Linked DNA regions of Homo sapiens: region 2 is linked to region 1. The links come from fine-mapping of genetic effects on gene expression. A gene starts in region 1. The other region holds a variant in brackets. All regions are shown on one strand. Distances are between the middles of the regions. Region 1 holds the start of PPP1R14C (protein phosphatase 1 regulatory inhibitor subunit 14C). Region 2 holds the start of LOC105378054 (a long non-coding RNA gene).

Region 1 (8,331 bases):
CACAAGCCTGTTTATGGCTAGGATGCTACGGGCATTGCAATCATCTGAGCTTAGCAACATGTTTTTATTTCCAAAGCAAATTGAATTGCAAAACTGGAAGTACAGATGTTATCTTGATGCTGGGCAAACTTGGAAATATTCATATGACTTATCCAGTAAGTCATCTTGCAGTACTTGTTAAAGTAGATATTATGCCAGATTTCAAATGCTCTTAAAAACCACCAGGGTTGGCTGGGCGCGGTGGCTCATGCCTGTAATCCCAGCACTTTGGGAGGCTGAGGCAGTCGGATCATGAGATCAGGAGTTCGAGACCAGCCTGGCCAACATAGTGAAACCCTGTCTCTACTAAAAATACAAAAATTAGCCGGGCATGGTGGCACGCATCTGCAGCCCCAGCTACTCAGGAGGCAGAAGCAGGAGAATCGTTTGAACCCAGGAGGCGGAGGTTGCAGTGAGCTGAGATTGCGCCACTGCACTCTAGCCTAGGCCACAGAGAAAGACTTCATCTCAAAAAAACAAAAACAAAACAAAACAAAAAAAACCCACCAGGGTTTGGAAGAGATTAAAAAAAAAAAAAAAAGGTCTTTAAACAGAAATCCTTAAATGTGGATGTAGATGTAGATTTAGTCTAATGGTTACATTATAATCAAATTCCTAGCTGAAAATGTACCTGTATAAGCCTTCCCAAGAGAAGATGAGATGGAAAAGAACTATAAGCACATAACAAATCATTTTGGAATCCAATAAAAGCACTTATCTACGTATTCAAAAGGCTATTTGACGTGGTATTTTACAGTGCTGCCCTTAGACTGGGTAAGAGGGGACCACATCTCCGGGCCCCACTCCTGCCATAACCTGTCTTCCTGAAGACTTCCTAGGACAAAGTGGACACATCTATCCAGAACCAGTGCCCCTCCACTTGGTTTTAGTCTGTGATCCGGGTCCCCAGAATTCCCTTCTCAAATCCCAAGTAGCTTCTAGGGCATGAACAAGCTCCTCCCAGATCTGTTCTGGCCTAGGGGGACATCACCACTGGTGTGTGCAGAGGCATCATGGTCAAGGAGTGGCAGGTGCATACCAAGACTGGGCGTGCGAGTGGACACAGTGTCCTTTACCAGGTGGGACTGTACCAAGGATGGGAAGCAAAAGGGAAGAAACCCAGGCCAGGGCAGTCTCCTAACTGCATTTCAGTTCATGACTCTGGGAAGTAACATTTTGAATTCAAAATGCAAACCTAGACTTCAAGGTCATTATGAAGATGTAGCTGTCAAGATCAGTGGACAGAAGAAATTTTATACAAATGTTGTTAGTTTAACTCATAAGTTTTAAACATTTAGACAGATGTCTTGTAGACCTACATTTGCTCTCTTGCACGGTACAGACAGGCCTCATGGGTATACAGTGGACTCAGATTCCAGACTGGGTTCATCCTCAACCCCAACCCACCCACCAGCTACATGAGCTTGAAGCAGCCTTTTAATCCTCTCTGAGTCTTCACTTCTTTATTTACATTTAAACAAGGATAAAAAGAACATCTTCTTTATAGGGTTGTTATGAAGACTAAATGAATTAGCCCAAAGTACCTAGAAGAGCACCTAGTCACCTAGTAGGTAGGTAATAAATTCCCCTATGACATTATTCTCATACAAAACTGATTAGTCACTGCACACTTCCAGAAAAAAACACAGACAGAAAGTGGTTCTGTGTATTTCTTCTTTCCTCTTCCTCTTTCTAAATACATCACTTTACACTGCTCCAAAAGATTATTTTCTATTCTGAAAAGGTCAAGTCATCTGATTCCTAACCTGCTTGGGTCAAGTTCTTCTGAAATTAAAGATGTGTTCATATTCTACCCCAACTCAGCAGATAACTCAAGCCTTTGGCAGGTTTGAGGTTTGAAGGCTGGGAAATTGGCTGTGTCACTTTCATGGGCTAAACATTTGAAAGAATTACCACTTTTAAGTATAAAAAGGACATTTCCTAATCTTCGTATGCATGAAGTTCGGAGCTGTAAGCTAGGGTGCGTCCTTCTTGATTCACAAACCAGAGGCTGAAATACTTGAAGCTATCAACAAAGAAAGGTTACTCAACAAGAGAACCCAATGCTAAAAATAGAGCACTATCAGCAGAGAAATAGATGCAAAGAGACAAGCCTTTATTTGGCTACTTATTTGCCCATGTTTCTTTATTATTAAATGGAGGTACACCACCAGCATAGTGATTACAAATTGCCAACAACCTAATTATTTCTCTTCCTTCAGCCTACAATGACTGAACAAACAACTTGAAGAAAAATACTTGCCACGTTAATGACATGCAGGCAGCATATAGAGCATCTTGAATTATTTCACCACAAAAACCTCCCTTTCAAATGTCTAGCTGTTTGCTACGGGTTGAAGATTTAAAACCCAAGAAGAAAAGTACAATACAAGGAAAAGATTCAAGCTCATGTTTACCCTTTAAAATATATACCTAACCTACATGTTCCACACAGGAAACAATCAAACCTCCATTTTTTCTAATTATTCTGAAGTATTTTTTAAATATATTGTTTATCAGGCTACTCAGTGGGTAGAGCTCTTTCTAGCTTCCCAATCTAAGCCTAATTAGTCTCCCACAAAAAGAACCATGCTGGTGCACTGTTAATTTCAACAATGCTTTTTCTATTAATTCGAATCTTTTCCAAATCCCAAATGGAGAAAAAAAAAACAGTATGAAATAAATGAAAATTAACTGGATTCTACAGAGGCAGGACTGAGCACATCCACTCATCCAACAGTAATCCCATCTACATCAAATAATGTTTCTTTACAGAGTTTTGCCAACTTCCTATAAAAATCTCATGAATACTTCTTATGTTTGCCAGTTTTTATTTATGCAATTAAATTAGCTTTTTGTAAGAGCTGGACTGGAGAAACAACACATTTTTACAACCCCATTAGTCATACAGTCAAGCTTCATTATATTATAATCATTTATCAGTAGTCAGTAACGAGTATGCTGTTTTCTTGTGCAATGAGGGTGTTTAAGAAAACGTGTCTTCACAACAGGCCATGAAATGTGTCAAATACAGAACACCCGACATTAGTGGTAAAGCCTGTGAGTTCATCTGGTTGTCATCTCTGTTGAAGAGCACAACAGTTGAATGAACACAAACCTAGCTTTAGCTTAGAAGCCACATTCTTAATTATTAACCCCTTCATGCTTCCACCCTTTCCAAACTCCACTCCCTTAAGAGGAGGTCACTTCATTTAGAATTAATAACTGTTATTCAAGATGCTCATGAGAGATCATTTTGGCTTCAGTCGTTTTGCTGCAGTTTATTCTACATATTTCTCCCTAAATCAAATGTATACACGTCCCTGAGACTTGTGTATGACCTTAGTCCCTGGACCTTGGGAAGTCACGATGTCGTGGAGGAGAGGGGAGCTGGGAGCCTGAAGCTGACAGATCCCGGGATCCCGCAGGCCCCCCGCAGGGCTCCCGCCCTTCCACCGAGGCACCCGTCGAGGTTGCCCCAGATGCTCATTCTGCGCCCATCAATGGGAGTAACTGAGCTTAGAGAGGAAAAACTACGGCTTCAACAAAGCACAACGTGTGCAGCTCTGATAATGCAGGGCGGAATTATGGAGACACCGTCGGGGCTGGCTGGAAAGCGGAAAGCGTTCCATCTCAGGATTTTCACGGGGAATTTCAAGAACCAAGGGGGCCTCTGAGATCCCCAGAACCTCTCCTTTCCACGAGGCAGCTTCCTTCCTTCCCTGCTCGTTCTCCACAAAAATCAGGGCTGCCCGGATCCCAGCAGTGAGCGCTGCTCTCTTTGGCTGCTGTATCCCCAACCGCTGCTGAGGCGCAGCTGGAGTGAGCCCCTCCGAGCCCCGCTTTGCGCAGCTGCAGCTGGAGCCCAGAGGCGCCCGGAGCTCGGAGAAAAGCACTGTGCTCCGCGGGACCCAACCCTCCCCACGGCCACCAAGGGGGCCCGCAGATCCCCGGGCACCGGCAGCCGAACCCAGACAGGGGCGTCCCAACCGCTGAGCCCGACGCCAGAGGGCACCGCGGGGGAGAGAAGGCGCCGCGCCTCGCTCCTGGCACTTGGTCCCCGGGAGTCAGGGACATGCGCGCCCCGGAGCTGGAGCCCGGGAAAATTACTGCGCGGGCACAGAGGAGCTAGAGAGGTCCCCGACCCTCCCAGCCCCGCGCCCAGGTACCTCGCAGCCGTAGAGCTGACCCAGCTGCTCCACGATCCATTCCTCCAGCACCAGCCGCTTCCGAAGCTCCTTACGATCGTATTTCACTGTCACTTTTCCCTGCTGGTGTCGCCGCTGCTGTTGCTGCTGAACCTGCCCTGCAGCGGCCGCCGTGGCCACGGGCGCCGAGTCCTCCCGGGAGGAGCCTGAGCCGCTGCTGGAGCCGGGGCTGCCACCGGCGCCACCCCGGGGGCTTTGGAAGAAAACCCGTGCGCCGCCGCCGCTGGCCCCGCCGGCCGTCTCGCTGCTGCCCGTCGCCACCGACATGTCCCCGCGCGCCCGAGCCTCAGTGCGGCCCGGAGGAGGGGCGGGCGGAGCGCGCCCGGCGCCGCTACCACCTCCGGCCCGGCAGCCGCATGCGAAGGGCTCCCCGGCACCTGCTCTGCGCCGCGCGCGCCCAGCCGCCCGGCTGCTCTGGGAGGGCGGGAGGAGCCGCGGCGAGAGGGAGGAGGGCGGGGAGGACGACGGGGCGGGGACCGCAGCCTTAAAGAAGCCGCCGAGGACCCTCTCGGTCCAGCCCCCAGAGGCGGGATCTGGCGCCTGCGGCAGAGAGGGCCCGGGGCGTGGGAGTCTCCGCGGGGCGGGAAATGTGTGCGCCTAGACACGGGAGGTCGCCGATGTGTAGACTCCGGAAGGACGGGCGTGGGGCGGGGTGCCAGGGGATGCTCCTGCGCGGGTGTCCGTGGCCTCTAGTCTCGGAGACAGGGACTCACGCTTCTCCCGCAATCCCGGAGCGCAGGAAACGCGCCGCCTCTCGGGGCCTCCACCTGGCGCGGCCCCGGGCAGGACCCGCAGCGAAGGGGACACAGGAAAGGACCGCGCCGCAGGCTCCCCCAGGAGGTTTTCCTAGCCCCACCGTCTCCTCTGTTGGCTGGGTAGCGTCCCCTCCCCTCCAGCCCCGCCCCACGGCTCCAAACACACATTCCTATTCATGCCACGATGGATGCCACTTCCTCTCTGGATTGTGAGAAACATCGAAGAGGCGATGTTTGTGCAATAAGGCAGTCACGGCGCTTGAGAAATTATTTCCAGACCAATGTTTTCTTTCCTTACTAAGCGTCTGCTTAATCATGGGCACAGCATTCGGATATCTTCGTATCCAAAGGGCAGAAAGCGTGACGGCGCTCAGGCAAGGCGTCTGGGGGCATCCAGACAGTAAACATTTCTCTAAGAGGGTCGGCGACAGGGTCCTGGTTTCACATTTCTAGTGTTGCGTCCCGTGCACTGCCAGCTTTCTCTCCATCCCATTCCAAACAGCCCCTTCCACCCAGGAGGGCAACAGCACTGCCTGACTCTACTGCAAAACATCACAGCCTAGTAGTTACACATGAAGGAGCTTCTCAGAAGGGTTAGGACAATAAGGTGGGGAGGGAAGTTGTAAACAGAAAACTGCATGTGTAAAATTAGGGAGACACTAACATATTCTTCTTGTACACAACAATACATTCCTGTTCAGGAACTGATAGAAACCACAGAGACGTCCGAATGAATACAAGTAAGCGGCTTTTAGTAACGGTTTTGTTTTGTTTTGTTTTTTGAGACGGAGTCTCTCTGTTGCCCAGGCTGGGGAGCAGTGGCGAGATCTCGGCTCACTGCAACCTCTGACTTCGGGGTTCAAGCGATTCTCCTGCCTCACCCTCCTGAAGAGCTGGGATTACAGGCTTTCGCCACCACACCAAGCTAATTTTTGTATTTTTAGTAGAGACAGGGTTTCACCATGTTGGTCATTCTGGTCTCGAACTCCTGACCTCATGATCCGCCCGCCTGGGCCTCCCAAAGTGCTGGGATTACAGGTGTGAGCCACCGCGCCTGGCCATGAACTTTTTTTGTTTGTTTGTTGTTGTTGTTGTTTTTAAATAAAAGAGCCCTAAAGGTTACTGGCAGCTACTCAAAGAAGTTTCTCAGAGATAAAATAGATACCAAGTCAAATTCCTCGGAACACTTTCCTATGATGGAGAAGATCCTGTGTGGGGTTCTAGACTGACACTACAAAGACAAAATAAAAGTAACCAGCAGGTTTCTCCTGGCGCTTCAGGCTCTGCGATCCACCAGCGCCCAGCTCTGCTCTACCCAGGCTTAGGATCCATTGCCTTTGTACCCTCAGTCTGGGGTTTTCCAGTGAGAGCCTGAATAGGGATTTTCCCAAAGTGTTCCATGCCTGCGGCTCTTCACAGGGACATGTCAAGCCTCACAATGTGAAGGGGAAGGATCTGCGGAGATTGAAATAGGGTGGCTGGTGTGGGGCCCTGGACTCCTGCCATAATTACAAAGGGGTCAAAGCTGAACGATCTCTGCCCCGCTAGAAGAGGCCAGCTGCCCTTTAGAAGATGGGTTTTGCACCGAGCCTATCAGGGACAAGGGAGATGAATTACCTTGATTGCCCCTAGAGACCGATGACCAGTCTCTGCACCACCTCTGCCCCTCTGCCTTTAGGGTGGGTCACTGTAAACCCCGAACACACAGCCAAGAGAGTGACCACCTCAAAATGGAACTCTGTCTGCAAGGAGGAAGGGAAAGGAGGGCAGGAACCAGCCCCAGCATCTCCCACACAGAATCAGCTTATATGGCTCCAGACATCTGGCCAAGTCCGCTAGCACCAGCTTTGACCAACTGCACTAATCAGGAGAATGCAAATCAGAACGAAAACAGCTTAAATGTTATTAACAAAGGAGAAACTACATAAAATCTCTACCTCATTCTGGCCCTGGGACCTGACAATACCTATTGTGCCATCCCACAGTTTGGCAAAGTCTGGGGAATTCCAACTCCTTTCTTTAAGTCTTTGGACAACGAAATCAGTCATTCAAGGATAACGTCAAATAATTTTAAAAAATTCACTAAGTTCTTTCTGAGAAATTCTGATGTCAATTTTTTTCTCACAGCATAAGATGCTTTTTCCTTTATGCTTAAAACTCAATTTTCCCTTACAACTCCAAAATGACAGATACTAAAAGACATGGGTTTTAAGCATCTTGACTCACAGAAGAAAATCCAGGAAATAGTCTCTTTCCACAGGTACGCTGGCCTTCAGATGTTCAAGTGAGTCACCTTGACTGGCAAATAGAATTGAACCAGGGTTCCTCTTTCTTTAAATCCATTTGCTCCACCCAGTACGTAATTTATATTCAAAGTGAAGTCCATATCATCTCCTCTACCCCCAGACACACACACTTCATTCCAGGTTTGAATAATCAAAACTTAATGGCCTCATTTTGACAGATAGAAATACTGCTTTTGCAGATTTCAAATATTGAAGCCAAAATATTTAGGAATAAAGGAATTTTTCCTAGTCCAGAGACCCTTTACATAGCTGACTATTTAAATTCGGCAAAACCAGTGGTATTTCTCATCTACAAAACCAATAATATATACATTTATTCAAGGAAAACATTTTTATTTCTAGCCTATTTAGTCAAGTGTTTTTAGGTGCTGGTTAATCTAAGACAGTGAATAGCTTTCAGTGAATTGAATGGTCCGGAATCAACTTTTACCTGAAGGCAATTACTCCCTGCTATGAGAGGGCAGCCTAAGGATGTTTCATTTGAATCTTTTTCTTCGTAGTTTTGTGTTTTCTTAGCTTGGTTATGTTTTACTTGCTTCCCAAATTGGACAAAGTTTTTTGTTTGTTTGTTTAGGAATTATATAGGTCCTTTATCTCTGAATATGATCTTTATGCCCAAAGGTTGTTAGACAGGATGGATGACTTAATCAGGAGTCCTGGAACTTTTGTCACCCCCCAGGAAAATAATTAAATACACATGTTTATACTCAGATGCAAATTTCCTTAAACGGCACAATAATTATGCAACACCTGGTAATCTACTTTGACAATGTTATAATTGCATCCTGGAGACCCACAAACCTGAACATAATCTTCTTATCTTGAGTAATAAATGTCAAATGATAAGATGCCTATATCCGAATCCTCTCCAAGATTTGATGAAGCAAAAAGACAAATTAAAAATTATTTTCAGTCTGGTTTTCATTATAAATGTTGAAGAAACTTAATCTGTCTTTCAGGATTCCATTGGTTACCCACAGCATTTTCCATTTTCATTCCAATATTTCATTGTTCTTTACAGAG
Region 2 (8,331 bases), 130 kb before region 1:
CCACCCTATATCCTCCCAATAGGTTCCAAGTCGAATCTCTCCACGGCCTCGCCATCTGCCTGCAGCCTTGTCCATATAATTCCACAGCACCTTCAGATGTCTTTTTCCACAGTGCCATGAAGTGGAAATTAGGAAACACCAAGATTATTCTGTCACAGACATATTTGCTAGCCTTCTCTTTAACTGATTGACACGGGGGAAAGTGCTTTCAGTTAGCTTGCTATAGAGTGGGACAAGAAAGCCACGTAGTCATAAACATGTGCCTTTTAAAAATCAAATCCTACAACCAGTACGAGCCTGATGGATGCAACGTCAGCGACTGCTCAATGGCTTCTCTCTGGAAGGTGCTTTTTGTCCCCAGGCGGCTGAAGGTCATAGCATTAATCTGTTCTCCAAACCCTCAATCTTAGGCCCCTCTCCTCCCTTCTGGTTTCTTTCTTTCCCAGCTCTGTTTCCTGGATGCTCTGACTGTCAGCAATAACAAGGACAAAGGTAGGGCAAGGGACCTAAAAGGACGAAGGAGTGTGGAGGAGGAGGAGAAGCGCTGGGGTGGCTGTTTCACCTTCAGCACACACTCCAGGCTGCTCTGACGGAAAGACCCAGGAAGGCCATTCATTGCAGACTTTTCTCACCCTGCCAAGCTGGACAGCTCGAGAACAGGCCATGGAAGTGGTTTCTCCCCTGAGACCATCATTTCAAGACCTATTTGCCCTTTGAGGCTACCCACGTGTGACCCTGGGAGATGTGTGTGGCTATATTTCACCTCAAACCCTAACCTCAGCAGCTGTGCTGTTTGGTTGCTCAGCCGCGGAGCAGCAGGTGGCCTTCTGCTGTTACCCATGAAGGGGTCAAGCTAGGCCAGGCCTGCTGGGAGCCCAGTGAAGATTTACTGGCAGTGATGCCTCCAACACTTCTTTCTCCAGAGCGAGAGCAACAGCAGGTGAGGCATCCATGACCAGCCTGTCACTTTCCTCGGGGAAAGAGAAAGGAAGCCATATGCTGACCTTTCGTGTGCAGAAGTAGCACAGTCAGAGCATATGTCCAGGAGCTGCAGAGACGCCATACGCATAGCACAGCCTTTGTCCAAACACTTTTCCAAGAATAAAAAGACTTCATTAATGCAATGCACTCCCTCACACCCCCCAGACGCCAGCTAGCCTCTTGATGATTTCACCGGCCAGTTTCTTTGTTGTCTGGAGAAGGTTGTGGGCTCTTCTGTCTATCTTCCAGATAGTGGAGGCCAGATGGGCAATAGACTAAGAATAGGGGCTAGCACTGCAGCAGTTTTGTTAAGCTAGCTATACAAAATAGAACTTTCTGGCTGGACACAGTGGCTCACGCCTATAATCCCAGCACTTTGGGAGGCCAAGGCGGGAGAATTGCTTGAGCTCAGGAGTTTGAGACCAGCCTGAGCAATAAAGCGAGGCCTCCATCTTTACAAAAAAAGAAAAAGAAAAAAAATTAGCTGGGCATGGTGGTGCATACTTGTGATCCCAGCTACTAAGGAGGCTGAGGCAGGAGGATCACTTGAGCCCAGGAGTTTGGGTTGTAGTGAGCCATGATTGCACCACTGCACTCCAGCCTGTGAAACAGGGTGAGACCTTGTCTCAAAAGAATAAAAAATAAAAATTTGTTGATGGAGTAATGAATATTGCAGTGGAAAGCAATGATATTGTCCAAGGTTGAGTCTCTGCAAGAGAATAGATCTGTATCTGCAAGATGAGGGCCTCGATCACATGTATGTAGATGTGGACAGACAGGCTGACTCATGCTCAGGTTGTTTTTAAACGCCTGTGGCTTTAGGGGGAAAAAGACAAAAAGAAGGAAAAGTGCCCAGATTTGACAGTGTGTGGTACAAGTTTAGGTGAGTTTTTTCTTTCTTCCTACAGGATAGATTTTCCAATATTCCTATAGGATAGATTTTTCCAGTCTCCTATGGCAAGCGTTTGTTACCATCATAATCAGAAAGAAGATGACACAGTGTCCCAACACTGGATTTACTATAGTCTACACCATGCAAATGAATTAACTCAGTGTCAGATGCCTCATCAAAGGTGGGGGAGAACAGGCATGGTTGAGTCATTCCCACAAATCAAGCAGTTGGAATCCATGAAGAAACTGTCTTCCACAGCATCAGAGCACCTTCCGCCAGGAACGTGCCTGAACCCGCCTGGCCCTGGAGGTAAAGTTTAGAAGCAGAGACTGGTTAGGAACCAACCAGCCACACTGAGACACCAGCTAAACGCCGGTTTCCATAAACCTCTTTAGGAGCTTAGGAACTTCAATTTTATTGACCATCAACCATCCAGTCTTAGATAAAGGGTCAGGGAGCAACATTTGAAGAGGAAGAAAGGGAGATGAATGGGCTCCCTCTGGCCCATTCGATTCTGTGCCTCTGACCCAGAAAACTGGTCATTGTCAGCTCTTCTCTTGGGGCTTGCCCCAGCCTGGATTAGCAAATCATTTCTGCAAACTGTGAATGCCTTGAGTACAGATTTGCTGGGATGTGGGGTTTGGGGAGGAAGGTAGAGTAGAGGATGTGTGCTCAGACCTTTCTGGGTAAATATATTAAATCATGTCTGTTTAAAATAGAAAGCTAGTGAGAATGTTCCCTCTTGCCAGCTTCCAGCATTGATCTTTCAGGGCATACACTGAACAAGGAATATCTAGGTCTTCTTCAGGGCAGCCAGTATTTTTACCAGGGCAGCCCTGATGACGTCACTGGGAAAGTTCCTTTTTCTATTTTCTTTTAGTCCCTTTATCTACAGGCACAGCTGCTTAATGAAACCAGAAGGCCTGGGATGGCACCAGAGCTTACTGACCACTGACCAAAGAGCAGAGGAAGATAAGATGCCACAAAACCAGCACAAACCGGAATAGATGACCCTTAGTTGCCTTCAGATCATTAACATATCATTATAATGCTAAAATTTCCTCCCCCAAAGGAAAATCTCCACCATTTTGTGTACAGGTGATATATGAACATATATATTTATGAATTAGGCATATCTGGAGTCCCGCCCTGCACATGCAAACACGCTTCTCTCGCCCTGCACCTGGTCCTTAAAACCCCACACCTTCTATTGTTTGGGAAGAAGCTACCTTTCGAGTGAGAGCCACCTTCTCCATTCCTTGGCTAGTGAATAAAGCCTGATTGCTTTTTCCAGCTGGATGTTCTTTTTTTGTGACTGACACAAAGTGGTGAAAAAACCCAGTTTATCAGTGACAATATGGCAGCTCTTTATCTATCCCAACCTTCTGCTAAGGGCTTTCTTATATTGCAAACTGAATATCCCAGACTCTCCTGCAACTGAGGTTTCCTTGTGATTGTGAATGGCCACCCAAAGGCCCTCATGCAGCCTTGAATTAGGAACTCATTTAAGTAGAAAGGGAGGCAGGGCTCACAGGAAGCTTTGTAGCCAACAGGTTTGGTGTTAGCTTTTGATCCCTGGATCACAGCTGGGTCAGCGTGTTCCTGGAACTAGCATTTGCAATGGCTTATTCCTGGTCCTTGGAGTGTGGCTAAGGAGTAGGACCCTGGAGCCCTGTAATGGTGCAGTGGCTTGCTGATCCCCAGATTTCTGGAGTTCCTGGTCACTACACCATTGGGAAAACTAATCTGCCTCTCTTCCTCTAGAGAGCTCAGAAAAATAAAATAGTTATCTTGGGAGCAAAGTGGGGTTTGGAAGGCTTTGAGATATATATTTAATCCACTCAATCTCTATGTTTCTTCATATAGAGTAGTGTATTTGATCAATGAAAAGGCCTTGTCAGCAGCTGATCTGAATATACTAAGAACATGGATAAATATTAATACCAAACTAGTGCAGGGAGACACATGGCTCTTAAACGAACGGAGATTTTTCTAGTTGGAATTCAATGGGCCTTGCTTTCAAAACAGACTCCTCTCTCATGCACCTGTGAGTCTCTCCCAGGGACTCTTGGGACTCTTCCTAGACGTCATTTATTCATCTGGATGCTCCCAAGACAGAAATGCCAGGCGCATGGGGAAAGCATTGTTAGATCAAGTTTAGCCTAAAGCTGCCTCCTTACATTTTTAAGTTCAGCCAGGTTTCTCTGTACATGGTGAACTGTAATCTAGCTGGCTGTACACAACTATAACCTTTGTGCCAAGCGCTGAGTTTCAGCCAATCACAGGTGGCCAAGTGTTTGAACCATGTTCAAATAAGGCAAATGCAGAGCTGTAACCCATCCTGCTGTTTCTGTACCTCACTTCCGTTTTGTTTGTCACTTTTCTTTCTCTATTCATAAATCTTCTTTGACCATGTGGCTGGGCCAGAGCCTCTCTGAACCTATTCTCATTCAGTGCTGCCCGATTTGAGGTTTGTTCTTTGCTCAATGAAACTCTGTTAAACTTAATCTGTCTAAGGTTTTTCTTTTAACAGCATTGCAACTCTCTGATGCCATCAGACAGTCATTCATCACATTCTGCCGATTGTCAGCCTTCAGAGGAGAAGGATGTTGTGGACTTGCTTGTGTGCCAAGGCTGAGGTGGGCCCCATGCCCACTGCGCCTTTAGATGTCCAGCATGCCTCCCCTTACACAGCACTCGACACACCCATGGGAGTCTCACAACCATCCCAGACACATTACTTCCCTCATTTTTCTAATGGAAAAAAGAAACGAACTAACCAAACAACAGCAAAACCCAAGTCCAGAGTTAAATACCTTGGCCAAGGTCACACGGCTAGGTAGATTCAGAATCTGTCAACTCTTTAGCCACCCCCACTTCCTGCAGGATAAAGTCGAACTGCTTAACTTTTGTGCAAAGCCCTTCATGATCCAACCATCCAGCTTCCCCTCCCCCTCACTGGCCACCCCCCTGCAGGCTCCAGCCCTGCTGGAGTCACTGATGTCTGAGACTCACTGTGCCCATTCTCAGCCAGACGCTTGACTCATGCCATTACCTTTGCTACATCATCCTCCTCCCACCTCCAACTCCACCTA[T/C]GCCTCCTCATGACTCATGCCACTCAGCCTTCGGGTCCCAGCACCTCATTACTTTCATTGGTCAGTCCATCCACAGGCATTCTGCTAGGCTTATTCTGTGTGCATGGTACCAGGTGCAGGGAAGGCAGCAGTGAATGAGCAGACCTGCCCCTATCCACCAGAGCTTCCAGCTCAGTAGGAGATGCAGTTAAATGGCCAGTGCTGAGATGTTGTAACAGGCATTGTGACAGAATAAGAACAGGGTGTGTACAAGTCACGGCTCTCCAGGGAAACAACCAATAGGACGTGTGTGTGTGCAAATAAAGCGATTCATTATAAGGAATTGGTTCACGTAATTATAAAGGTGGGCAGGTCCCAAGATCTGCAGAGGGAGTCTGCAAGCTGGAGACCCAGGAAGAGTGGAGTGGATCCTTCAGTTCGAGTCTGAAGGCAGGAAAAAAAGCTGATGTCCCAGTTTGAAAGCATCCAGGCAGGAGGACTTTTACTCACAGGAGGTTCAGCCTTCTGTTCTCTTCAGGCCTTCAGCTGATTGGGCGAGGCCCACCTGCATTGGGGAGGGCAATCAGCTGTCCTCAGTCTCTTAATTTAGATGTTAACCTTGTCCAAAATCATCCTCACAGAAATACCCAGAATAACATTGACCAAATATCTGGGCATCCCATGGCCCAGTCAAGTTAACATAACATTAACCATCATAGGGTGCTGTGGGGACACACAGCTAGAACTCCAACTTTGGAAATGCTTTCATGATCTCCCTGCCCCCACAAGACTCCATCCAGTGTTATTTCCCTGTTTCCACAGCCTCATCACAGGCCATATATATCTTACCATATCATATTATCATATCATCATACCATATCATATCATCATATATCATTATACCAGATCATATAATATATCATATCACATTACCATATCATATCCTCATATCATTTCATATAATCCCAGCTGGCTTGTCTCTCTCTCCCACTGCACTGTGAACTCCTTGATGTCTTTGCAGACAGACCAACCTCGGAATCAGACCAACTCTGATTCCAAGACCTGAAGACCTTACTCTGGAATCAGACCAACTGGCTAACATCCTGGCTCTCCTGCTCTTAGCTGTATGCTTAAGCAACTTCTTTATGACCTGGAACCTCAGTTTCCTTCTCTGTGAAAAGGGACAGTAGCAGTACTAGTACCCACCAGCCTCACTGGAATGTTGTGGGAATTAAATGAAGTAATGTATATGAAGCACTTAGTGCTGAGCTGGCCATCGTAGCTCCTCAGGAAATATAAGCAATTGCTCTCATTCCCTGCTGAACTCCAGCCTCAGCACACCTCCCTGCCTAACAGAATCTTGATTAAATGCCCACAGCACTACTCTGTCCTGCCAGTAACTGGATGTGTCTGTACCCAACAGAGACTCAGCACTTCATCCTTCCAGAACTCTGCTGGCACTGCACAGTTCCCTACAGACAGGCTCAGGGGAAGGGAATGTGTCTGATCATGTCTGCAGGAAGAGGGTGACAAGATGGTCAGACATTTGTGGAAAGCTGGCGGGGGACTTAGAGCAGCTGGCCCAAGAACTGTTCCCAGCAGGGGCAGAACCAGTCATCTTTAGTGACCTGCGCCATCTGGCTTGATCTTTAGTTAACAGCAAGGCTGACTTCAATCAGGCAATTGATTTCTGGCCAATCTCTTTCAAAAGGAGGAGACCTCAGGACAACTCGTGCTCAGGCATTTGATCTCACTTCAAGGAGAAACATTGCAGAATGGATCCACAGTGGGTAACTCCATCTTTTCCCATCATTACGGATTTTGCTATCTTTCTAAGAACTTTGGAACCAGCTCCTTGAACACTCTGAACTCAGTGTTGTACACATGGAAGGGTTCTATTGTTCTCCCACGCTCTTCCACCGGAGGCTATGGCACAAACGGGCCCTGCCTTTTACTAGCCTCTAGGCTCTGTGTATCTCAGTAACTGCATCTACATGATATAGTGACAGTTGCCTCCCTATACATTTCAGGGTGATATCTCAGGAAATGATGTTTCATCCAATGGAGCCGCGGGTGAAGATGTGTGGGCGGGCATGCAGCATTCCATAAGTGCTGAGCTGGAGTGTTGCACCGAGGGACTCAGCCCAAAGTCCTTGTATAACCCAAAGTCAGTTTTACATGGAAATAAATGCAAGGAAGGGAAATAACTTCTCAGAGTGTGTACATCAACAACCATGTAATAATGCTTTGTAAAAATTATTTTGGCAGTGTCTCTGATATTTCACGGAGCCTCCTCTCCTCTGAAGGTAATAGCATAGTGTGTGTCATGGTTTTGGCCTTCATCATAGTTTTTTTATTTCTAGTTTTATTTCCAACCCATATTTTCCCACTAGCATCACCAACTAAATGAGGGCTTATTGTAAGATATAAAAAAGATATTGAAATATAACAACAGTAAATGTTAAAATAACAGCACATGGCCCTCAACATTAGTCAGCTGGAGTCCTCTGCACATAAATACCTTGAAACCAGGAATTTATTCACCAGTTAAAGGGCATTACTTTGGGGCCAAGATATAAGCACAGTTTACAGTTTACTGGGCCCAGTATGAAAGCAGGGTGTTATAGGTTGAACTGGTTACCCCCAAAAGATGTTAAAGTTCTAACCCCTAGCACCTGTGAATAGGACCTTATTTGGACATAGTGTCTTTATAGATGATCAAGTTAAGACGAAGTCATCAGGAAGACTCTAATCCAGTATGACTGGCATCCTTACAAGAAGGGGAAATTTGGACATAGAGACAGACACTTATAGAGGGAAGACGATGTGAAGACACGGGGAGAAGACAGCTCCCTACAAGCCAAGGAACGCCTGAGGCTAGAAGCTCAGGGAGAGGCATGGAACAGATTTTCCCTCAGAGCGCTCCGGGGGAACCAACCCTGCCAACATCTTAATCTTGGGCTCTGGCTTCCTGGACTATGAGACAATAAATTTCTGTTGTTTAAGCCACCCAGTTTTTGCTACTTCGTTTATGGCAGCCTGCAAACTAATACACTAGGCTAATCATGATTGTTTTAATTTGGAGGGATTCTTTTCCAGAAGGCAAAATCTTATTAATTATATATTTATCAATCTACTTCCAATGTGTACAATTATTCCTGGTAACCCAGGAATCTGGAAAATATCTGAGGAAGAACAATCTGTGAAGTCTGGATTTCCTACAAGTGAAGAATGTGGGGCTCAACACAAAAGAATTTAGGGCATATGTGTACATGATAATAGGAATAATAGCTTACATTTATTGGGTATTTCTATGTGCCAGGCACTGAGTGAGTTAAGTACCTCATATGAATCAACTCATTCAATTTGCACAACCACCCTATG

Evidence for each region. PIP is the estimated chance that this variant, and not a neighbour inherited with it, causes the effect. A credible set is the group of variants that fine-mapping cannot tell apart.
Region 2: its variant is the best candidate, but not a certain one, in a credible set for the expression of PPP1R14C in fibroblasts (GTEx, PIP 0.75).

The regions. Positions count from the first base shown.
Region 1 is chr6:150,139,376-150,147,706 of GRCh38, reverse strand. It overlaps PPP1R14C (protein phosphatase 1 regulatory inhibitor subunit 14C), which reads right to left and starts at 4,663. Exons shown (of 4, transcript NM_030949.3): 1 at 4,209-4,663. The coding sequence starts at 4,514.
Region 2 is chr6:150,266,568-150,274,898 of GRCh38, reverse strand. It overlaps LOC105378054 (a long non-coding RNA gene), which reads right to left and starts at 5,487. Exons shown (of 3, transcript XR_943109.3): 1 at 4,929-5,487. RefSeq lists an enhancer at 809-1,309 and a cis regulatory region at 2,508-3,540. The variant T/C (reference allele first, on the strand shown) is at 4,969.